Regions from separate parts of the Homo sapiens genome. Here all the other regions are linked to region 2. The links come from fine-mapping of genetic effects on gene expression. A gene starts in region 2. Each other region holds a variant in brackets. All regions are shown on one strand. Distances are from middle to middle.

Evidence for each region.
Region 1: its variant is fine-mapped to the expression of NVL in whole blood (INTERVAL, PIP 0.92).
Region 3: its variant is fine-mapped to the expression of NVL in whole blood (TOPMed, PIP above 0.99).

The regions. Positions count from the first base shown.
Region 1 is chr1:224,223,091-224,231,273 of GRCh38, forward strand. It overlaps NVL (nuclear VCP like), which reads right to left. Exons shown (of 23, transcript NM_002533.4): 22 at 8,136-8,183; 23 at 4,255-4,580. The coding sequence ends at 4,536. It overlaps LOC101927164 (a long non-coding RNA gene), which reads left to right. Exons shown (of 3, transcript NR_110668.1): 2 at 324-738; 3 at 4,336-4,953. Among named protein-coding and RNA genes, the nearest start is that of MIR320B2, 30 kb to the right of the region's middle. The variant G/A (reference allele first, on the strand shown) is at 4,495.
Region 2 is chr1:224,325,469-224,333,651 of GRCh38, forward strand. It overlaps NVL (nuclear VCP like), which reads right to left and starts at 4,704. Exons shown (of 23, transcript NM_002533.4): 1 at 4,603-4,704; 2 at 923-996. The coding sequence starts at 4,659. RefSeq lists enhancers at 4,272-4,411, 4,462-4,511, 4,702-4,751, 4,772-4,921.
Region 3 is chr1:224,300,294-224,308,476 of GRCh38, forward strand. NVL (nuclear VCP like) reads right to left here. Exons shown (of 23, transcript NM_002533.4): 6 at 7,698-7,970; 7 at 4,741-4,873; 8 at 4,443-4,519; 9 at 3,430-3,564; 10 at 269-370. It also overlaps the pseudogene RNU6-1008P. Among named protein-coding and RNA genes, the nearest start is that of NVL, 26 kb to the right of the region's middle. The variant C/T (reference allele first, on the strand shown) is at 3,859.

The DNA.
Region 1 (8,183 bases), 100 kb before region 2:
AAAAATGTATCCAAATCTGTTCAGTTCCTGAGTTCAAACAGTGAGATCTAGAATAGTGACAGATACAAAGTATAGAATACTATACTTTTACCTAAGTTATATCTACTTATACTTTTTAGGGTAATAAGGCATTTTACAACATTTTTACCTTTTGGAAATAAGATCTTCCAGTAAATACTACTTGGACATGTTTTCAGCAATAACCTACATACAAACATGAGAGACCACCTGCTTCTTCCCACTGACACCAGCCCCTCCCTTATCCAGGCCTTTGTTCTCTGCTCAGGTCATTTACCTCCTTCCTTCATCTTCTTTGCCTTCAGGATTCCGCTGACACATTGCATTCTTGGGAGAACCTTCCAATTCCAATTATGGACTAGCTGCTCCTACCCTGTGCTCTTCGCTTGGTGACTATTCTTATCCCTTTTCAGCCCTTCTCACACTGTTTTGTGACTGTCTCTTTATCTGTATTAAGTTGGATATGAATTTGGCTCCTTTCACACAGACCAAAATATAAATAGCTTAAGCAATATAAAGATCACACACACAAGTGAGGCAAATGACCATCTGAGGGTTGAGGAAACTCTGCTGCAAGGGTTGCCCACGATCCTGGTTTCTTGTGTTTTATTACTTTGTCATTCCCTAGGATGTTGTCTCCATTTACAAGGCCAAAACAGGTTCATCATCAGCTCATCACTCTCTAGTCCCGGGAAGGGCAGCATGGAGTTAAAATGACAGGTAGCACCTTCTTTTTTAAACAAGTTATGACTTTTCAAGGACATAGCCAGGGTCTTTGCTTCTGGGAGAAGGTGTGTTGAGTTCAATGTAGGCTGCCCTGAGTTAATGATGGGTTAATGCAACCCAAGTCACTTCCTTATAAGGATGTAACCAGAAGCTGTTCCCATCGCTTCTGTTTATATTATACTAGCCAGATGTTTGTTAGTCACTTTCCTGGCAGCAAGAGCCCTTCTTACTAAAAGGTAGAAGAAAAGAATGGACATTATAGGGCGATAAGCTCTCTGCCACACACACCACACTGGGCATTAAGTTCTGAGTTTGTTCACCATTATGTTAGTAATGCTCAGTACAAAGTGTTTAATGAAATGGCTAAATCTTTGACAGTGCTAGAACAGAGGACATAATTCCGGGAGTTTCTGAACAGAGGACTGGATCTTTTTCACAAGAGAAAGAAAAGTTAGACCGCTGTAGACCAGAATTCAGACTGTTCCGCGAGTCCCCTTGAACAGGCTCTGAACCTTGTTCTTTTTGATGATATGGGGATAACTCTATTTGATCCCTAGTATGAGTTGGGAGCGTTAAGATAACATTTGGCAGTGTGTAGTACACAGATCATGCTGAAAAATATGATCTTCCCTTCCATTTGCAGAAGTGCTGGCAACATCCACTGTCACACTACCTGTCGCAGTATCTGCCTGCTGTTCAACATGTACCATACCTGACTGGCAAAGCCAACGAACACGCAGCCAGTCTGCTCTCTTATGCGTTCTACATTTTATGTCGAGGTTAAGCTAAACTACCAGCAAGTTGGATACTTAGACCTAACATTTAATAGTCAAGAAGATTTTTGCTTTTTCTCATAACCCACATCTATGATATACCTGACTGTGTTTCTCAGGATTGGGTGGATGTCAAGCAGAGTTGAATCTGCTCCTCAAATTTAAGACCTTCTGGTGCATATTCCAATTTTCCCTTCATTCTTTTTTTTTTTTTTTTGAGACAGAGTCTCACTCTGTCACCAGGTTGGAGTGCAGTGGCACGATCTCGGCTCACTGCAACCTCTGCCTCCTGAGTTCAAGCAATTCTCTTGCCTCAGCCTCCCGAGTAGCTGGGACTACAGGCCATGCCACCACACCCAGCTAATTTTTGTATTTTTAGTAGAGACGGGGTTTCACCATATTGATCAGGATGGTCTTGATCTCTTGACCTCGTGATCCGCCCGCCTTGGCTTCCCAAAATGTTGGAATTACAGGCGTGAGCCACCGCACCCGGCTTCCCTTCATTCTTAATCACCTACCTTTAGTATGTGATCCTGATTTGCCTTTTTTTTTCTTTTTTGGTGTTCCCTCTTCTGGTGTCCTAAGGTACCCTCTTCTTCATGCCCTTTCACTGGGCATGGTCATACTCTGCTGAGATGTCTGAATCCTTCTGCGAACTCCTCAGAAAAACGACTGTGTTGGCTGGGCACAGTGACTCACGCCTGTAATCCCAGCACTTTGGGAGGCCAAGGTGGAAGGATAACAAGGTCAGGAGATCGAGACCATCCTGGCTAACACGGTGAAACCCCGTCTCTACTAAAAATACAAAAAATTAGCCGGGCGTGGTGGCAGGCACCTGTAGTCCCAGCTACTTGGGAGGCTGAGGCAGGAGAATGGCAGGAACCCGGGAGGTGGAGGTTGCAGTGAGCCGAGATTGCACCACTGCACTCCAGCCTGGGCAACACAGCAAGACTCCGTCTCAAAAAAAGAAAAAAAAAAAGACTGTTTTATTGACCTTTGTAACCCTGATTTGCTTTTAGTAACATTTTTTCACCACATTCTTTTTGTAAATTTTTTTTTTTTTTGAGACAGAGTCTCACTCTGTTGCCTAGGCTGGAGTGCAGTGGTGCGATCTTGGCTCACTGCAACCTCCGCCTCCGGGTTCATGCGATTCTCCTGCCTCAGCTTCCTGAGTAGCTGGGATTACAGGTGCCTGCCACCACGCCCGGCTAATTTTCATATTTTTAGTAGAGACGGGGTTTCACCATGTTGGCCAGGTTGGTCAAGAACTCCCGACCTCAGGCGATCTGCCCGCCTTGGCCTAGTGCTGGGATTACAGGCATAAGCCACCACGCCTGGCCTTGTAACATTTTTTTTTCTTTTTGTAGAGATGTGGGGGGTCTCACTATGTTGCCCAGGCTGCTCTCGAACTCCTGAACTCAAGTGATCCTCCCACTTAGGCCTCCCAAACATGCTAGGATTACAGGCATGTGCCACTGTGACTGGTCCACATTCTTAAAAGTAGCCTAAAAATTTTTGTAGAATGAGGTGAAGTAAAAATTTAAGAAGAAAGAAAAGTAGGTAACCCGACCCATCTATATATAACTTCCGGATATATTGTGAGCAACACTGTAAATTATGAGTTGAACACAACAAAAATCAAGCCCTTCACAAAGTATTGCCTAGGGACTCATCAAACATATAGAGGCCAAAGGAGAGTCAAATCTGGGACAGTTTGAATATCATAATGATAATAATGGATAATATATTAAAAATAGTAATACTTGACTTTGATGAGGAATGGACTTTATAGAGTTTCAAAGTAACTTCCCATAAAATACACATACATTACAAAGTGAAAAAAAAAGAGTAAAGAGTAACTTTGTAGTGTGAGAAACCTGGAAGAACTACCTCAAGTGATCACAGTGAACATCATGAGTAACAGGACAAACTGAAATCGCATGCCACATGACAAGCGCACAGTGTCACTTTGTAATCTGCCAAAGATGCATAACTTGAGTCTAATCACAAGGAAAACATCAGACACATCCACACTCAAGGAATTTTACAAAGTAACTGGCCTGAAACCTTCACAAGTGTCAAAAGTCAAACCTGAAGAAATGTTCCACGCTTAAAAGAGATTAAAGAATGTAGCAACTAACTGCAGTGGCCTCCTTTTAAAGCAGTGGTCCCCAACCTTTTAGGCTCAGGCACTGGTTTCGTGGAAGATAATTTTTCCACAGACAGGGTCAGGGGAGGTGGTTTCAGGAAGAAACTGTTCCACCTCAGATCATCAGGCATCAGATTCTCATAAGGAGGGTACAACCTAGGTCCCTCAAGTGCACAGTTCACAACAGGGTTCACGCTTCTATGAAAGTCTAATGCTGCCACTGATCTAACAGGAGGTGGAGCTAAGGCAGTAATGCTCGCTCGCCCACCACTAACCTCCCACTGTGCGTCCTGGTTCCTAACAGGAGACAGATAGGTACCTGTCTCCAACCTGGGGGTTAGGGACCTGTTTTAAAGGACATTATCAGGACAACTAGAGGAACGTGAATGGAGGAGGATTAGATGGCAGTGATGTATCAATGTATTAATTCCCTGACTTTGATGGTGGGTTATGTAGGAGAATATCTTCAAGTGTAGAAAATACACATGACAGTATTTGGGAGTGATAGGGCATCAGGTTGGCACTTATTCCTAGATGGTTGTGGAAGGCGGGGGAGGAGATCTCTGTAACTTTTCTGTATAGTCAAAATAGTTCAAAGTAAAAGTTTTATTTGAAAAATGTAACAGTCATTTTATTTCAGCAGTTTAAAAATTGTCCTTTTTCTTAAAGAGGAAGAAGGCATTTTCACACAAGGCTGGCCAGATGGGAAGAATCTTCAGCTTCAGCTTCAGCTTGGCCTCATTCATTTGAAAATAAAATGTTTACATGAGGCCGCGCCTGTGTCCAGCTGAAAGTGGGTCCTTCAGAGCGTGTGGGGGATTCTCTGCC[G/A]GCTTGATGGGCTAGCTCCTCTAAGCCGGCTGCTGGAGACATCACCGGCTGAGGGACTCCTGCAAACGTTCATACATGATTTGATCCTGAAAGGAGGGAGAACACAGAATACAGAGACCGTCACTGCTTGTTTTGGGCTGAATGGTGCCCCCCAAAATTCACATGCTGCAGTCCGCACCCGCAGGACCTCAGAATGTGATTGTAACTGGAGAGAGGGTCTTTATAGAGGAGACTGGATTAAAATGAGGTCATACAGGTAGACTCTTATCCAATATGACTGCTCTCCTTACAAAAAGAGGGGATTAGGGCACAGGAGGGAAGAGCATGTGCGCAGAGGGAAAAGCACATGCAGGCGCTGGGAGAAGACAGCCATCAGTGAGGACAAAGGCTCCAGAAGAACCAATCCTGCCCAACACTCTCCAGAACTGTGAGAAAATAAATTTTCCACTTTTTAAGCCACCCAGTCTGTGGTACTTTGTCATAGTAGCTCCTGCTGACTAACTTACTGTTGAAGAGAGGTGATATTTTACCTTCCTGCATCTAAATCCTAATCTAAATCCTACACATGCTCCTTTCCACAGGGGACTCCATGACATTCACAATCGTTGACTCAAGTTTTCCTAAAAAATCAGGTCAAGAGTCTTATGTCTATCTAATTAGTGAAGAAAGCACAATTCTAAACTACACTGAATCCAGATGGAAAGGAGGCAAAGGCAGAAGCTTCTTTTTTTGTTTTTTGAAACGGAGTCTCACTCTGTCGCCCAGGCTGGAATGCAGCGGTGCAATCTCGGCTCACTGCAATCTCTGCCTCCTGGGTTCAAGGGATTCCCCTGCCTCGGCCTCCTGAGTAGCTGGAACTACAGGTGCGCACCACTACGCCCGGCAAATTTTTTGCATTTTAGTAGAGATGGGGTTTCACCATGTTGGCCAGGATGGTCTCAAACTCCTGACCTCATGATCCACCCGCCTCGGCCTCTCAAAGTGCTGGGATTACAGGTGTGAGCCACTGCGCCAGGCCGGGAAAGTAGAAGCTTCTTACACTACATTAACATTCATAAGAAACTGCCAGAATGGGCCGGGCGCGGTGGCTCACACCTGTAATCCCAGCACTTTGGGAGGCTGAGATGGGTGGATCACGAGGTCAGGAGATCGAGACCATCCTGGCTAACATGGTGAAACCCTGTCTCTACAAAAATACAAAAAAATTAGCTGGGCATGGTGGCGGGCGCCTGTAGTCCCAGCTACTCGGGAGGCTGAGGCAGGAGAATGGTGTGAACCTGGGAGGCGGAGCTTGCAGTGAGCCGAGATCGCGCCATTGCGACAGAGCGAGACTCCGTCTCAAAAAAAAAAAAAAAAAAAAAAGAAATTGCCAGAATGTTTTCCAGTGTGGTTGTATCTACATTTTCAGCAACAATGTATAAGAGTTCCAGGCCAGGCGTGGTGGCTCAGGCCTGTAACCCAGCACTTTGGGAGGCTGAGGCGGGCCAATCACCTGAGGTTGGGAGTTGGAGACCAGGCTGACCAACATGGAGAAACCCTGTCTCTACTAAAAATACAAAAAATTAGCCGGGTGTGGTGGCACATGCCTGTAATCCCAGCTACTCGGGAGGCTGAAGCAGGAGAATAGCTTGAACTCAGGAGGCAGAGGTTGTGGTGAGCTGCGATTGTGCCATTGCATTCCAGCCTGGGCAACAAGAGTGAAACTCTGTCTCAAAAAAATAAATAAATAAATAAATAAATAAAAAGAGTTCCAGCTGTTTCATATCCTTGCCACCATTTAGTGTTGCCAATATTTTAAATTTTAGTCATTGTGGTAGGTGTGTAGTAGAATCTCACTGTGGTCAAATTAAAAAAAAATTTTTTTTTTTGAGACGGAGTCTCAATCTGTCGCCCAGGCTGGAGTGCAGTGGTGCAATCTTGGCTCACTGCAACCTCTGCCTCCCAGGTTCAAGCGATTCTTCTGCTTCAGCCTCCTGAGTAGCTGGGACTACAGGTGCGCAGTAGCTGGGACTACAGGTGCGCGCCCAGCTAATTTTTGTATTTTTAGTAGAGATGAGATTTCACTATATTGGCCAGGCTGGTCTTGAACTCCTGACTTCGTGATCTGCCCGCCTCAGCCTCCCAAAGTGCTGGGATTACAGAAGTGAGCCACCGCGTCTGGCAAATTAACATTTTAAATGTTGGGTGGCAATTCCACTCCTGTGTATTCATCCCAAAGAAATACTTGAAGTGTGTTTTTTCTTCTGTGTTTATTTGTTTGTTTTTGAGACAAGGTTTCGTTCTGTAACCGAGGCTGGAGTACAATGGTGTGATCATGGCTCAGTGTAGCCTCAACCTCCTGGGCTCAAGTAATCCTTCTGCCTCGGTCTCCTAAGTAGCTGGGACTACAGGTGCATGACACCATGCCTGGCTAAGTTTTAATTTTTTTGTAGAGACAGGGTCTCACCATGTTGCCCAGGCTGATCTTGAACTCCTGGGCTCAAGCCATTCTCCCACCTCTGCCTCCTGAGTAGCTGAGATAACAGGCATAAGCCCCTGTGCCCAGCTCCAGAGTGATTTTTTTTTAACCCTTCTCCCACCTATGGTGAAGATGTTTTTATTTCCCTGAAATGTATGGGTAAGTCCCTATGGCTTAGTTTGGGTACAGTCTAGCTCCAAGAAATACAAAGCCATTTATCAAAAAGCGTAGAGTAGGTCAAATAATACTTGAATCAGATGATTAAAATTCTGAGATTGTGGGCTGGGCGCAGTGGCTCACGCCTGTAATCCCAGCACTTTGGGAGGCCAAGGCGGGTGGATCACGAGGTCAAGAGTTTGAGACCAGCCTCACCAATATGGTGAAACCCTGTCTCTACTAAAAATACAAAAAATTAGCCAGGCATGGTGGTGCGCACCTATAGTCCCAGCTACTCAGGAGGCTGAGACAGAAGAATCGCTTGAACCCAGGAGGCAGAGGTTGCAGTGAGCCAAGATCATGCCACTACACTCCAGACTGGGTGACAGAGCGAGACTCTGTCTCAAAAAAATAAAAAAAAAATCTGAGATTGTGGAGGCAGAAGAGGTCATTCTCTTTCTGAATAAAGTTGTTAGAGAATCTAGTTAGGAAAACTGTGTTCTAGTCCCTAAGAAACATATAAAATTAAAATCTCTCAAGAACATTCTCACAAAGGCAATTATTTTGCTTGTTTTCAGATCAAAATGAACCATGTAATTTCTTTTTAGGAAGTAGAAGTAGTATACAAAACAATCTGTAAAAGAGTTTAATTCAGCCGGGCGCGGTGGCTCACGCCTGTAATCCCAGCACTTTGGGAGGCAGAGACGGGCGGATCACGAGGTCAGGAGATCGAGACCATCCTGGCTAACATGGTGAAACCCCGTCTCTACTAAAAATGCAAAAAATTAGCCGGGGATGGTGGCGGGCACCTGTAGTCCCAGCTACTTGGGAGGCTGAGGCAGGAGAATGGTGTGAACCCGGGAGGCAGAGCTTGCAGTGAGCAGAGATCGCACCACTGCACTCCAGCATGGACGACAGAGCAAGACTCCGTCTCAAAAAAAAAAAAAAAGAGTTTAATTCATGAGGTCATATCTACTGGTCTAAAATTCTAGTTTCCTTTCTCTATGCATTTAATGGCATTGCTTACCTTTTTTGATATAGATGATCTTACTTTCTTGAAAGCTTCTTCAAAATG
Region 2 (8,183 bases):
CACGTCTGTAATCCCAGCACTTTGGGAGGCCAAGGTGGGCGGATCACCTGAGGTCAGGAGTTCGAGACCAGCCTGGCCAACATGGTGAAGCCCTGTCTCTACTAAAAATACAAAATTACCCAGGTGTGGTGGCACATGCCTGTAATTCCAGCTACTTGGGAAGCTGAGGCAGGAGAATTGCTTGAACCTGGGAAGCGGAGGTTGCGGTGAGCTGAGGTCATGCCATTGCACTCCAGCCTGGGCAACAAGAGCGAAATTCTGTCTCAAAAAGAAAGGAGTCAGGAAACTCAGGGAGATCATACCTGCTGGTGATGGTTTTAATTTTCTTTCTTTTTTGGGACAGGATCTTATTCTGTCACTGAGGTTAGAGTGCAGTGGCGTGACCACAGCTCACTACAGCCTTGACCTCCTGGGCTCAAGTGATCCTCCCACCTCAGCCTCCCAAGTAGGTGGGACCACAGGTGCATGCCACCAAGCCTGGCAAATTTTTGTATATTTTTTGTACAGATGGGGTTTCACCATGTTGCCCAGGCTGGTCTCAAACTCCTGGGCTTAAGCCATCCTCCCACCTCAGCCTCCCAAAGTGTTGAGATTACAGGCATGAGCCATTATGACTGGCCCGGTTTTAATTTTCTAATGTAGCAGGAAAGGAAGTGATATAATAACATCTCTATCTCTTGACCAGACTGTCAGGTACTAAAAGATAAGCAGTGACCCATTTCCCACAGTACAAAAGACATTTTACTGCACATAATAGGTATTTGATAAATGTTTGCATAACTGAATTGAGTTCCAAGATTATGGATTGGTGAACTAATGCCAGCAGCTACTGATATCAACTGGAAATTTAGGCAGGATATAAACTTTTAAAATGGTAAAGGAGACATAAAAATCCAAGGATCCGGAAACTATATTTATTTACCTGTACACTCTTTGTAAATCAGACGCTAAGACTCCAATGTCCACATATTTGCCACATTTGTTACTGGTAAGGTACTAAAACAGAAAATATAACAAATACAAAACACCCAATATTTCAAACTCAGTGATTTTAATCAACAGATTGAGCTATCTGAACACATTATACTTTAAGATAAACTCTTCGTTAATAAAGTGTACCAGAAACATAAATAAAAGTAACCAAATAATTGTCAAATATGAAATCAGAAAATTTAATTAACATTATTAATCACTATAATACAATACTAATAATTATCAGAATAGTTATAAGGCAGTAAGTGAGGGCTTACTTACTAATATCCTAGGTTTCCAAACACCCCAGAACACTGCAGTAAACTCATAAGGGTAGGAGGGGATATTTTAAACTTCAAGGAACACAGTGATATTTGACATCTGTCAGATACTGCAGAACTACTAGCTTGAGGCAATTTAGTTTCAATATTAAATCACCTTTTGGCTGGGCATGGTGGCTCATATCTGTAATCCCAACACTTTGGGAGCCCAGGAGTTTGAGACCACCCTGGGCAACAAAGTTTGACCTCATCTCTACAAAAAAATTAAAAAGTTGGTTGGATGTGGTGGCTTGTGCTTATACTCCCAGCATTTTGGGAGGCCAAGGTGGGAGATCGCTTAAGCCCAGACTTAGAGGTTGCAGTGAGCTATGATCGAGCCACTGCACTCCAGCCTGGATAACAGAACGAGACCTTATCTCAAAAATAAATACATAAATAAGCCCGGGCGTGGTGGCTCACACCCGTAATCCCAGCACTTTGAGAGGCCAAGGCGGGAGGATTGCTTCAGTCCAGGTGTTCGAGACCAGCCTGGGCAAGGTGGTAAGATCTCATCTCTACAAAAAATTTTAAAATTAGCCAGACATGGTGGTGCATACCTGTGGTCCCAGCTACATGGGAGGCTGAGGTGGGAGAATCACTTGACCCCACGAGTTTGAGATGGCAGTGAGCAGTGTTCACACCACTGCACTCCAGCCTGGGTGACAGAGCTAGACCCAGTCTCAAAAATAAAAAATTAAAATTAAATTAAATATATAGCTAAGTGAAAATTTATTTAAAATATTGTGTAAGACTATCTTCAGGCTATGTGTGTAAGGTGTATATGAAACATAAATAAACTTCATGTTTAACTTGGGTCCCATCCCCAAATATCTCATTATGTATATGCAAACATTCCAAAACCTGAAAAAAATCAATCTGAAACATTTTTTGGTCTTAAGCATTTAGAATAAGGGATATTCATTTGTACTTTTATAATGAACCAAAGTGAAAGCTATAGAGGAAAACTGATAATGTCAAACGCTGAAAAGAGTCAAGTGTGAGGACAGAGAAGAGGCCACTAGATCCAGTAATTAGGAGTCACTGCTCAGAAACCTCAATAAAGTGAAGGAGCAAGTTGTGGGACGCGGGAACATCCAGAGGAAGAGTAATTCAGAGTGACTGAACAACGAGAACAAAGGTCCTGTGCTTGGCATGTTTGAGAAGGTCTGTGTGGCTGGGACAGGAGAGGAAAAGTAAACTAGGACAACAGAGGCCAGAATATGCAGGGCTTTTCAGACTGGGTTTTACTCTAGATGTCTGTGACTCCACTGAAAGGTTTTGAGCAGGGCTATGGCAAGCTCTGATTTCCCCCCCCTTTTTTTTAGTTATACTTTAAGTTCTGGGATACATGTGCAGAACATGCGGGTTTGTTACATAGGTATACAGGTGCCATGGTGGTTTCCTGCACCCATCAACCCGTCATCTACATTAGGTATTTTTCCTAATGCTATCCCTCCCCTAGCCCGATTTTTCCCTTTAAAAGGATGTCTTGGCCACGCCTGTAATCCCAGCACTTTGGGAGGCTGAGGCGGGCAGATCACCTGAGGTCAGGAGTTCGAGACTAGCCTGGCCAACATGGTGAAATCCCATCCCTACTAAAAATACAAAAAGTAGCCAGGCGTGATGGCATGCACTTGTAATCCCACGTACTCGGGAGGCTGAGGCAGGAGAATCACTTGAACCCAGGAGGCAGAGGTTGCAGTGAGCAGAAAAAAAAAAAAAAATTAGATGTCTCTGGCTGCTCTGTGGGGAATAGGCTTTAGGTAAAAGCAGAATCAGAGAGATCAGTTAGGAGGCTATTGTAATAGTATAAGGTAGAGATGATGGTTTGGACTAAGATGGTTACAGGGAAAGACAGTAAGAAGTACTTGGAATATATTTTGAAAGTAAAGCCAACCAGGCTGTTGACAGATGGTATACAGGAAATGAAAGACTCAGAATGATCCTTAAGGTTTTTGGCCTTAACAACAGGACGAACGGTAGTATCATTTACTGAGATACAGAACACTAAGAAAGGGCAGATTTGAAGGAAGAAAAAAATCACAAATTCCACTTGGCCATTTTAATTTGGAGATATGCTGACTAGGCAGCTGGATATATCAATCTGTACTTCAAGATAAAATCTGGACTGGAGATATAAAGTTAGCAGTCATAAATATACAGAGGCCAGTGCAGCAGCTTGCACCGGTAATCCCAGCACTTTGGGAGGCTGAGGCCCGATCGCTTGAGCCCAGGAGTTAGAGACCAGCCAGAGTAACATAGTGGAACCCCGTCTCTACAAATAATAATAATAATAATAAATTAGCCAGGTGTGGTGGTGCACACCTGTAGTCCCAGCTACTGGGGAGGCTGAGGAGGGAGGATCACTTGAGTCAGGGAGGCCGAGGGTGCAGTGAGTTATGATTGTGCCCATAAACAGCCACTGCACTCTAGCCTGGGCAACAGAGCGAGACTATGTCTCAGAAAAATAAAAATAAAATGAAATAAATACATAGATAATAGAGTATGTAGATACTACTCAAAGGTTATTACACTAAATGAGATCACATAGGAAGTATGGATAGATAAGAAAGGTGTATGAGGAAAGAGGAGGAAGGGGAGGTAAGAGAACAGTGGCACAGAGCACTTCCAACATTTACAAGTTGGTAGGAAAAGATGGGTCCGAAAAGGAGATTGTTTAGGGGCTGGTGAAGTGAAAGAAAAACAAGGAGAATGTGTAGCTCACAAATTCCTAAGTGAAGAAAATTCTCTCCCACCTTTTAACTCAGACTGCTTGCTTACATTCTGAGGTATTTGCCACACACTGCTTTTTACTGATGGTCATGAAAATGAGAAAACCGTAGGCAAAGTGCCTGTTACTGTTGCCAGACCCATGTTATCTCGTTTTAGTGTGTAAGTTCCTTGAGAACGGAAATTAACATATTATTTATGCCACCCCTTCTCAAGGACCTCTTACAATGCGAGCGTTTGAAGACCATTCCTGTGCTAACTTCACAAGCCAAAGAGGTTAAAATTCAAAGGCTACCTCCACTCTACTGAATGATCTGCGCTGAAGACGACCAGACAACTTGGGCAGCCCTACCAAGCTGCACCCTCCCACCATCCCCGGCTTCTCCCTGAGACTCCGCACCAACGTGGGTAGGGAAGGCCCCGGCAGCACCAACTAAGGAGAAACAGACGCACGCCCAGACCCAGACTGGGGAAAGAAGACTAGTTGAGTTCCACCTGGATGCCACCCGACAAAAGGGGAGTGGCACCCTGGGGCAGCGATCGGGGCCCTTGGCGAGGCCAAGCGGTGCAGAATACACACCTGGATGACTCGCTGCTTGAGTTTATTATCCACGAACCCTGCAGGTCTGGGCTTCATCGCGTCGGTCTTCCAAGCCACAGCTCGGACCGCCAGCTCCTAGTCAACCGGGGGCCTCGTAGGGGTTGCCCGCCGCGATCGCCGGGCCAGTTGCACCTGAAATGCGCCCCTCCTGGGGCCTAGCCCGCGCCGTTTCCGTCAGAATAAAAGTAATGCGAATGAAGGGGAAAAAATTCCGAGGAGAGGGAGAAGACTTGAAAACCTCAGGGAGTTTCTAGGGGCCTTATTTTGCAGGCCTGCCCAGTGGACCCTGGAAGATTAGGACCCCTTTGAACGCGCTCAACTTTATTGGTTCCCCGCCGGGCGAACCAGGTGGGAGGAAGTTCCTACCCCGGCGCGGTGTGCGGAGACGCTGTCAACGGCGTCCTCTGGAAAACTTGGTTTGCTTTCCTCAGGCGTTCCAGCCACACCTCATTCTGATACAAAGCTAGTCTTCGCAAAACCAGCCACGGTAGATACTTGGAGTGATAAAATCAGGGTAAAAACACACCACCAGCCGCTGCTTGCTTTCCCACGTAGTTATCTTACATTTTAGAGGCCCGACAAAAGGGCTAGGTGAAAAAGAAAAGGAAGGACGGATTTATCCAGATAACTAAGTCATTTGTTACTTTTAGAACTCGTTTGACTTACGCTGTTATCATCGGCAGGTAATTTGTTGAATATATCCAGTGCAGGACTCCTTGGCCCAGAATTTTATCAAACGTTTGTATTTGCCCCAAGAAGTTTATCCTGCACTTAGGGAGACACAAAGGGACAGTTACCAAGCATTAAAAAAAAAATGCTGGCTTTAGTTTCTGTCTTCTTGTTTATTTCAACCGTGTTTTGAGTATTCTTATTTCAGGTCCTCCTTGGCTTATGACAAGGTTAAGTGCAGTGTATTAAGGGGCAGAGGGGAGAGAAAATGGAATTAAGAGAAGGGCGTGAGGCCGGGCACGGTGGCTCACACCTGTAATCCCAGCACTTTGGGAGGCCGAGGCGGGCAGATCACTTGAGGTCAGGAGTTCACGACCAGCCTGGCCAACATGGTGAAACCTTGTCTCTACTAAAAATATAAAAATTAGCACTGAATTAAGTATTAGATTTCCCACTCAAAATATTGATCCGTTTGGTTGCAACTTCATTTCCTACTTCTTCACTATGTGTAGTTTTATTTTTTATTTTTTTAGTTGTAAAATATAAGAACATTCACCATCTTAAACATTTTAAAGTGTGCAGTTTAGTGATAATACATTCATAATATGCAACCATCACTGCCATCTAGTTCCAGAACTCTTTTCATCTTGTACAACTAAAACTCTATACTAATTAAAAAATAACTCCCCATTCCTCCCTCCCCCCAGCCCCTGGCAACTACCATTCTACTTACTGTCTTTATGATTTTGACTACACTAACTTCCTCATATAAGTGGAATCTTCCAGTATTTGACTTTTGTGACTGGCTTGTTTCTTAGCTTAATGCCCTCATATAGCATGTGTTAGAATTTCCTTCTTTCTTTTCTTTTTTTTTTTTTTTTTTTTTTGATACAGAGTCTTGCTCTGTTGCCCAGGCTGGAGTGCAGTGGCGCAATCTCAGCTCACTGCAACCTTCGCCTCCTGGGTTCAAGAGATTCTACCACCTCAGCCTCCCAAGTAGTTGGGACTACAGGTGTGTACCACCACACCCGGCTAATTTTTTGTATTTTTAGTAGAAATGGCGTTTTGCCATGTTGGCCAGGCTGATCTCCAACTCCTGACCTGAGGTGATCCACCTGCCTTGGCCTCCCAAAGTGCTGGGATTACAGGTATAAGCCACCGCACCTGGCCTTTCCTTCACTTTTAAGGCTGAATAAAATTTGGCTCTTTTGTTGCCATTCTGCCTTTTGCCATGGGATGACACAGCAAGAAGGCCCTCACCAAATAACAACTCCTTGATATTGGACTTTCCAGCCTTCTTGCATTCATTCAACAAGTGTTTATTGAGTGCCTACCAGTTTCAGTCTCTGCTCTGCGCTTTAGGCTTGTGGGGAAAAGTGGAAGAATTATAACTAACTTTTTATAACATTTAAAAAATTTGATTAGGTATTTATGTGCTTGATTAAATGTTAGCAAAGATTCCCTACAGCATATAGTACAAATGTAGTCAATGCTCAGTAATTTTTAAAATGAAATGTAATTCTGTGCATGCCAAATGTCCAACATAGAATGAAAACACACTGAGGCCAGGCATGGTGGCTCATGCCTATACTACCAGCACTTTGGGAGGCAGAGGCAGGTGGATCACCTGAGGTCAGGAGTTCAAGACTAGCCTGACCAATGTGGTGAAACCCTGTCTCTATTAAAAATACAAAATTATCCGGGTGTGGTGGCCCATGCCTGTAATCCTAGCTACTTGGGAGGCTGAGGCAGGAGAATCACTTGAACCTGGGAGGCAGAGGTTGCAGTGAGCTGAGATTGCGCCATTGCACTCTAGCCTGGGCAACAAGAGCAAAACTCCATCTCAAAAAAACGAACAAATAAACAACCACATTGAAAGGCCTAGTAGTATCATGACATGTACTAGGCAATATAGTTTATTAGTCTATAATTTGTCATAGAATACTATCCTACACTTAGGGTTGACTTCATGGGTATGTGACCTCTGCAGTCACACAGGGCCCTGTGCTCAGAAGGGCCCCACAGGTGGTTTAATGCTGTACTGTTGCCATCTTGAAATGCTTTCTGAATAAGCTGTCCCTTATTTTCATTTTGCACTGGGTCTTACAAATTATGTAACCAGCCATTCATATGTAAACTTGAAGTACTCTAGAATGCTGCCTTCTTCTTCTTTTTCTTCTTTTTTTTTTTAGGTGGAGTCTCACTATATTGCCAGGCTAGAGTGCAGTGGTACGATCTTGGCTCACTGTAACCTCCGCCTCCCGGGTTCAAGCGATTCTTCTGCCTCAGCCTCCCAAGTAGCTGGGACTCCAGGTGCATGCCACCATGCCCAGCTAATTTTTGTATTTTTAGTAGAGACAGGGTTTCACCATATTGGCCAGGCTCGTCTTGAACTCCTGACCTCGTGATTCGCCTGTCTCGGCCTCTCAAAGTGCTGGGATTACAGGCATGAGCCACTGCACCCAGCCACCTCCTTCTTAAAGGCAGGGAATGTGTTGTTCATCTCACTACTGCTTCAGGTGCAGAAGGCAATAATTGAAAGTGAATTAATACTAGATGATAATATGCTTGAACATTTCTCGTTGGAATTATTTCATCAATTATTGCCCTGAAGACCATTTTACATTGATTCCAATGTTTGGATTTACAATATCATGCATCAAAACCAAAAAGATTACTGAACAGTAACCTAAGTGCATATACACTTTAAGCACTTCCTTTTTTAATTGAAGCATCCTCCATTCTTTGGTGGTGTAACCCCACCTAGTGGTAGTGGCGTATTTTATCTTTTGTCTTTCACACTTTCTCCTAAACCTCATACAGTATTTCACAAGCAAACAGCTTCTGGTCTAATTGTGCTTCATAACTAGGGTGATTTATGTCCAGATTTG
Region 3 (8,183 bases), 25 kb before region 2:
AACATATGACTACAGGGTATGACGGCCCAGAATTTCTCACCAATTACATTTATGTTTGATTTCAAATGAAAAGGGTTATTTATCCAACAGCTGGTATCACTAAATCTACTTTAAATATTTAGCCATCATGCATAGCAAATTACCATGTTTATATTAATAAAAGAATGGCCAGTGAGTGGGTTAACAAATACTAGCATCAGAAAAAGCAGGATCTTTAATATAAGCTGGTAGCGTCTGACCACCTGGCATTAGTCATTAACTGACTCACCACAGCTTGCTCAAATAGTTCTCTCAGCTTCTGCTCAGACTCTCCGGATACTCCAGACACAATCTCTGGAGCAGCCACTTTCAAAATTGGCAGGTCAAGTTCCTATGCAGACACATAAAAGAATAACCAAATATTCAAATTTTAATTTCCCTACTTTTTCTTATCCAGTCCCCTCAAATTTTTTAAATAGCTAGTTTCCTGAGGAACTTCATCTTTTTATGTTGGCCCAGTGAAAAACACTATTTGAAAATCAATGGTTTTGGCCGGGCATGGTGGCTCAGGCCTATAATCCCACTACTTTGGGAGGCTGAGGTGGGCGGATCACCTGAGGTCAGGAGTTCGAGACCACCCTGACCAACATGGAGAAACCCCATTTTTACTAAAAATACAAAAATTAGCCATGCATGGTGGTGCATGCCTATAATCCCAGCTACTTGGGAAGGCTGAGGCAGAAGAATTGCTTGAACCTGGGAGGCGGAGGTTGTAGTGAGCCGAGATCGCGCCATTGCACTCCAGCCTGGGCAACAAGAGCAAAACTCCATCTCAAAAAAAAAAAAAATCAACGGTTTCATGCAAACACATTTAAGTGGATACCTTCAACTTGTTTTTATTTTATACATGTCACTATAAAATTCTATTATCTTTTCTGAATAAAGGGTCTTGACTTTCAAGAGGTATGTTATCCCCACTTAGGGCTGAGCCAAAGCAATTCTTCGTTTTTTTTGGAGAGACTGTGTCTCACTATGTTGCCCAGGCTGGTCCCAAACTCCTGGCCTCAAGCCATCCTCCCAATTCAGCCTCCCAAAGTGCTGGGGATACAGGAGTGACCATTCCTGGCCTATCAAAACAATTCTTACCCATCTGCTAAGGAGAAAATAGCAAGGGTTGTGACACAGATGTTTCCCACACATTCTGCTAGTATTTCTCCAAATCCTAACCCAGAGAGTAGCCAGTTACTAGTCAGAGGAGGGAGACTCTTTAAGAAGAGGCCAGGTGTGGACGCCCATGCCTGTAATCCCAGCACTTTGAGAGGAGTTTGAGACCAGCCTGGGCAACACAGTGAGACCCCACCTCTAAAAAAATAATAAATTAGCCAGGCATGCTGATGCATGCCTGCAGTCCCAGTTACCTGTGAGGCTGAGGCAGGAGGATCATTTGAGCCTGAGAAGTCAAAGCTGCAGTGAGCTGTGATCATGCCACTGCACTCAGCCTGGGCAACAGAGAGAAAATCTGTTTCAAAAAAAAAAAAAAAAAAAAAAAGAGAGAAGAGAGACTACTGTTCTCCCATTCTTGTGCTTATCTTGAAATTTCACTTCCTCAACCATACCTTCCTTGAACCCAACTCTAATTTGGGAATCCTAACATACCACATACCATTTTGCACTTCTTCTTGTCTTCCATTTATTATAGTCATTATTATGTACAGCATTTATTTATATGAATGACTGTTTAATGTCTCTCTCATATTAGAACTACGATTGTGGTACTTAACACTATATTCCAAAGTCTGGCATGCAGTAGTCAGTCATGTAATGGAATTATTAAACAAAAATGAAGCAAACCAATCAAGTCCCCCTTTACAAATGATTTTCTTTCATAGAACATTATTGTATTAGCGCTTGGTATAACATGCTATTTTTCTTTTTTCTTTTTTTTTTGAGATAGAGTCTGGCTCTTGTTGCCCAAGCTGGAGTGCAATGGCATGATCTTGGCTCACCGCGACCTCCGCCTCCAGGTTCAAGTGATTCTCCTGCCTTAGCCCCCAAGTAGCTGGGATTGCAGGCATGCGCCACCACACCCGGCTAATTTTGTATTTTTAGTAGAGATGGGGGTTTCTCCATGTTGGTCAGGCTGGTCTTGAACTCCCGACCTCAGGTGATCCACATGCCTCGGCCTCCCAAAGTGCTGGGATTACAGGCATGAGCCACTGCGCCCGGCGAGCATGCTATTTTTCTAATCGAAGTTACTCGGATATTTTACATTACTGTCCCCTACAGTTTCTGAAAAATCTGAGAGGGTTAAAATAAGATTGCTAACTTTTAATTTCTCAAAGTAAGTGTCTATTATTACCATTTTAGAAAGAATTATTTTAAAACTAAAAAGTATAAGAACATGACTCTAAATAAAAATTTTGAATAAATTTAGCTATATGAAAAATAATATAACCCTAGTTTTCTTATTTTACTGCTCCTTAGAACCACTGGGAGGGCAGGTGCAGTGGCCCATGCCTGTAATCCCAGCACTTTGGAAGACTGAGACAGGAGGACTGCTTGAGGCCAGGAGTTTAAGACCAGCCAGGCAACATAGTGGGCTTCGTCTCTACAAAAAAACAAAAACATAAGCTGGGCGTGGTGGTATGTGTCTGTGTTTCCAGTTACTCGGGAGGCTGAGGTGGGAGGACCACTTGAGCCTGGGAAGTTGAGGCTGTAGTGAGCCATGATTGCACCATTGCACTCCAGCCTGGGTGACAGTGAAACTCTGTCTCAAAAAAATAAGTAAACTGAAATAACTATTGGGTTAAAGGGAAAGCAAAGTAACTAAAATGTAAGCTATGTGTTAATAAAAAGGTTTGTTTAAAACCGTATTATTATGGCCGGGTGCGATGACTCACACCTGTAATCCTAGCACTTTGGGAGGCTGAGGCAAGTGGACTGCCTGACCTCAGGAGCTCAAGACCAGCCTGGGCAAGAGGGTGAAACCCCGTCTCTACTATAATACAAAAAATCAGCCGGGCGTGGTGGCGTATGCCTGTAGTCCCAGCTACTGGGGAGGCTGAGGCAGGAGAATTGCTTGAACCCGGGAGGCGGAGGTTGCAGTAAGCCAAGATCACGACACTGCATTCCAGCCTGGGTGACAGAGTGAGACTCTGTCTCCAAAAAAAAAAAAACTGTATTATTTTACTTTTTATCTAACTCTTGCCATATAAACAATTACATACATTAAAAAAAAAAATCCCTCAAGTTGCTCGTGAGAAACAATAAATAAACTAAATGAATAAATTCCACAAATAATACCAGCATGATAACAAAGGGATCAGTTCCAATGACTATGTTCTCTTCCTGAAGAATGCCATGTCTGGTTTAAGTTGACCAAAGAGAAAAAACAAAAACAAATAATAACAACAAAAACAGCAAAAGCAAACAAATGTCAGCAAGCCTCACCCCAGCAATTGCATGTGCAAGTAATGTCTTCCCACAGCCTGGTGGTCCATGAAGGAGAACTCCACGAGGGGGCACGACGCCCAGGTGGTGGTACACCTCCGGGTGACGCATGTGTATGAGCATCTTGCAGACCTCCTAGCAGAGGATAAGCACAAAGATGTCTTTCAAGACAGAACAATCAAAGTAGAATGAAATGTCCTATTTTTCGGAGCAGTGAAATGGAGTAGATAGGTAGAATATACACCTTAGACTTAGATCAGACTTTGAATCCTGGCTCTGGTACCTACTGTGTGATTTCAGCAATAACCTCTCTGAGGAGCTATTTCCTAAGCTGTAACATTATATACCTTGAGGATGTAATGCAAAGTTAACTAGCATGGCAGATGAAAAAGAGTAGGCATTAAAAATAAAGTTACCATTACGGCCAGG[C/T]ATGGTGGCTCACGCCTGTAATCCCAGCACTTTGGGAGGCTGAGGTGGGCAGATCACGAAGTCAGGAGATCAAGACCATCCTGGCCAACATGGTGAAGCCCTGTCTCTACTAAAAATACAAAAATTAGCTGGGCGTGGTGGCACATGCCTGTAAACCCAACTACTCGGGTGGCTGAGGCAGAAGAATCTCTTGAACCTGGGAGGCGGAGGTTGCAGTGAGCCAAGATCGCGCCACTGCACTCCAGCCTGGTGACAGAGCTACACTCCTTCTCAAAATAAATAAATAAAATAAAATAAAAAATAAATAAAAATAAAGTTACCATTACTATTAGTATTGCTAAGACAATATTACTTATAAAGCATGGATCTTATATATACTATAATTAAAATAATAGAAAAGTTCAAAATAGTATGCATCTTTTCTCCTGCAATGCCCTAAAGGGTACAGGTCAGGTTTGCCCTTCTCAACCTTCCCAGTTTCCTTTTCTACACCCAGATCATATTAGAAACAAAGAGGTAGGCTTTTTCCTCATAACTGATTAGTAATATATCCATTTGAGGTAAAATTCAGAATTTGCACTAACTTTTAATGTCATATCATTGCCTCCCACATCTTCAAACTTCACGTTGGAGATCTGGAATTCTAACCCCCTGGCTTTAGCTGGTAAACAAAAATGAGGAGATGAAAAGATTAATGATTCAGTAGTAACTCATAATTATAATGAATAGTCTTTAAGTAAACAAAGGTCCATTAAATATAGAAATATTTCCTGGTAAACATTTCTGCACATAGAAGGTCCCTCAAGCAAAATAGCTTGGGACAGAATGATGCTTCTCTCACTGCAAACATGACCACTGCCACCAACAAGACTCACACCTTACCTTTCTTTTGCAGGACAGCTTCAATTTCTCCATCTACTTCCTGAAGATCTTCTTTCTTCCTTTTGCTTCCTTTATTCTTTAGCTTGCCTTTCCGTTTCATATCACTCTCCAAAAGAGAAGAATCTTTTGAATCCTGGAAAGAAAATAAATTTAAATATGCCATGCTTAAAATTCTATGCCAATAATTGTTTTACTTTTTAAAGAGGGGCATTGTAAAGAAAATTCATTCCTGCCCTAGCACTTTCACCTCTGTTAACTATTCCCAATCTCTTTGCTCAAAGATGCTGTCTATTGTGAAAGTCCTTCTCCTCATTCCCTTAAAGCTCAGTTTAAATCTTAACATTTGGTGCTGGCCTTGGCAGCACATATACTAAAATTGGAATGATACAAAGATTAGCATGGCCCCTGTGCAAGGATGACATGGAAATTTGTGAAGCATCCCATATGGGGAAAAAAAAAAAAAGAAAAAAGAAATCTTAACATTTGAATGCCGCTTCTTTTCCAGATTCTTTCAGTTAGAGTTTGTTTTTGTTTTTGTTTTGAGACAGAGTTTCAGTCTTGTCACCCAGGCTGGAGTGCAACAGCGCGATCTCAGCTCACTGCAACCTCCACCTCCTAGGTTCAAACAATTCTCCTGCCTCAGCCTCCCAAGTAGCCCACCACCATGCCCAGCTAATTTTTATATTATCAGTAGAGATGGGGTTTTGCCATGTTGGCCAGGCTGGTATCGAACTCCTGACCTCAGGTGATCTGCCCACCTCAGCCTCCCAAAGTGCTGGGATTACAGGCGTGAGCCGCCCTGCACGGCCCTCTTTCAGTTAGATTTAATCTTGTCCTCACATTCCCAAGACACTGCATTTGCAGCTATTATCAGTTGGAATAATCTGCCTTGTATGAGTGATTCACTTATCTCTGTCTTTCTCACTGAATTGTGAGCTCCTTGATTAAGGACACTGATATTTGCCTTTTATTTCTCACTGAGTCTTCTATATAGTTGTCTTCATCTGACAGCTGATGATTCACTAAATTAAATATAACTACAGAGCTGCTTTGACAGTCATAACAAAGTGTAATTCAGCCAAGCACACTGGGACACACCTGTAGCCCCAGCTACTTGAGAGGCAGAAGGACCACTTGAGCTCAGGGTTTCAAGGCTATAGTGTTCTGTGATCAAGCCTGTGAAAAGTGACTGCACTCTAGCCTGGGTGATGTAGCAATATTCCAACTCTTAAAAAAAAATTTTTTTTTTTTGAGACGGAGTCTCGCTCTGTCACCCAGGATGGAGTGCAGTGGCACGATCTCAGCGCACTGCAAGCTCCGCCTGCCGGGTTCACGTCATTCTCCTGCCTCAGCCTCCTAAGTAGCTGGGACTACAGGCGCCCGCCATGACGCCTGGCTAACTTTTTGTATTTTTAGTAGAGACAGGGTTTCACTGTGTTAGCCAGGATGGTCTCAATCTCCTGACCTCATGATCTGCCCGCCTTGGTCTCCCAAAGTGCTGGGAATACAGGTGTGAGCCACTGCACCCGGCCAAAAAAAATTGTTTTTAAGTATGATTCAGGCTGAGGTGGGTGGATCACTTGAGCTCAGGAGTTCAAGACCAGTCTGAGCAACATGGCCAAACGCCATCTCTACAAAAAATACAAAACTTAGCCAGGTGTGGTGGTGGGCACCTGTAGTCCCCAGCTACTTGGAAGACTGAGGTGGGGGGATGGCTTATGCCCAGGGGGTGGAGGTTATAGTGAGCCGTGATCATGCCACTCCACCATGTCAGTCTGGGTGACAAGGCAGACCCTGTCTCAAACCAAAAAAAGTATTTCAGCATTAAGACTCGAGTTCTTGCCAACCATAACAATGTTCCCTATAGATGGATGATATGGATAATTAAAGCAAAGAGATTTGGAAAGGCCTATTAATAAATAAAAAGGGGAAAGGTTCTGCCAAATCAAAGGGCTTGGTTCTTAGAAATCAGTTGAAGCATCATTGTCCATGAGGAATATGTGAGCCACATATGAAATTCATTTAATAATCTATTTTACTTAACCCAGTATATCCAAAATATTATCATTTCAACAGTCAATATAAAATATTATTAATGAGATGTTTTACATTCTATTTTTTTAGTGAGTCTTCAAAGTCTAATGTACACTTTAAGTTAATAGCACATCTCAATTTGGACCCTAAATTTTCATGGGAAACACCTGATTTGTACTTAGAGTTTGTAAAATTTACAGCTGAGGAAATAGATTCACATACCTAACAGGGTGGTAGGAGATGAAACTGAAAAGAAAGTCAGGCAGCGAAATCATAAAGGACGTTAGTGGCTGTCACAGGCCTTTGGATTTGAAACTGAATGAAGCCACTGGAGGGTTTTAAATAGAAGAATGATAATATGTGGTGGCTCACGCCTACAATCCCAGAACTTTGGGAGTCCGAGGCGGGTGGATTGCTTGACCCCAAGAGTTCAAGACCAGCTTGGGCAACCCTGCAAAACACCATCTCTAGAAAAGATATAAGTTAGCTAGGTGTGGTGGCACATGCCTGTAGTCTTAGTTACATGGGAGGCTGAGGTGGGGGATGGCTTGAGCCTGGAAGGCAGAGGTTGCAATGAGCCAAGATCACACCACTGCACTCCAGCCTCAGCGACAGAGCCAGACCCAGTCTCAAAAAAAAAAAAAAAAAAAAAAAGCTATCTCTCTGTGTAAAGAATAAACTAGGGGAACAAGAAAGGACACAGACTCCAGCTAGAAGGCTGTTTCAATAATTAAGTCAAGAATGAGAAAAGGCTTAGACTAGGATAGAAAGAATGGAAAGCAGTGCAATGTGATCAAATTCTCCATATATTTTAAAGTTCCTATGCCTTCCACAAAACACAAGTATCTGATTGATATTATATTCAACTAAAAGGTTGAAATGTACTTCGATGATATGGGGCTAAAATTTCATTACAAAAATACCTGTATCTCAGTTATTGGCTTCTTAGGATTACTTTTCTCACATGACAGGTCCAAGAAAAAACTGTCTTTCTTTACACTTGGGGTTTTGTCAATAAACCATCCTCCTTCAGAATCTTTGGCAGGGGTCTTCAAGGGAATGGAGCCTGTTTTGGAACTTATCCGTGGTGTTGAAGAGGTGGTTTCTCTTTGCTCCATCTCAGGAGTATTTGAAACAGAATCAGGATTTCCTTTCCGATATAAAGACAGCAGGGAACTGTTCATGTGATTTGCTGACTGGCAGAAAGATAAAACAAAATTGTAGCATAAATTACTCAACAGGTACTCATAAAAGTTGTATTGCCTATAGTAATAAGTTTTCTATATTTTGTTTTTTAACAACTTCTCTCAGAACATTTATAATCAGAATATATAGGTGTTAGGCTGGGCACAGTGGCTTATGCCTGTAATCCCAGCACTTTGGGAGGCCGAGGTGGGCAGATCACTTGA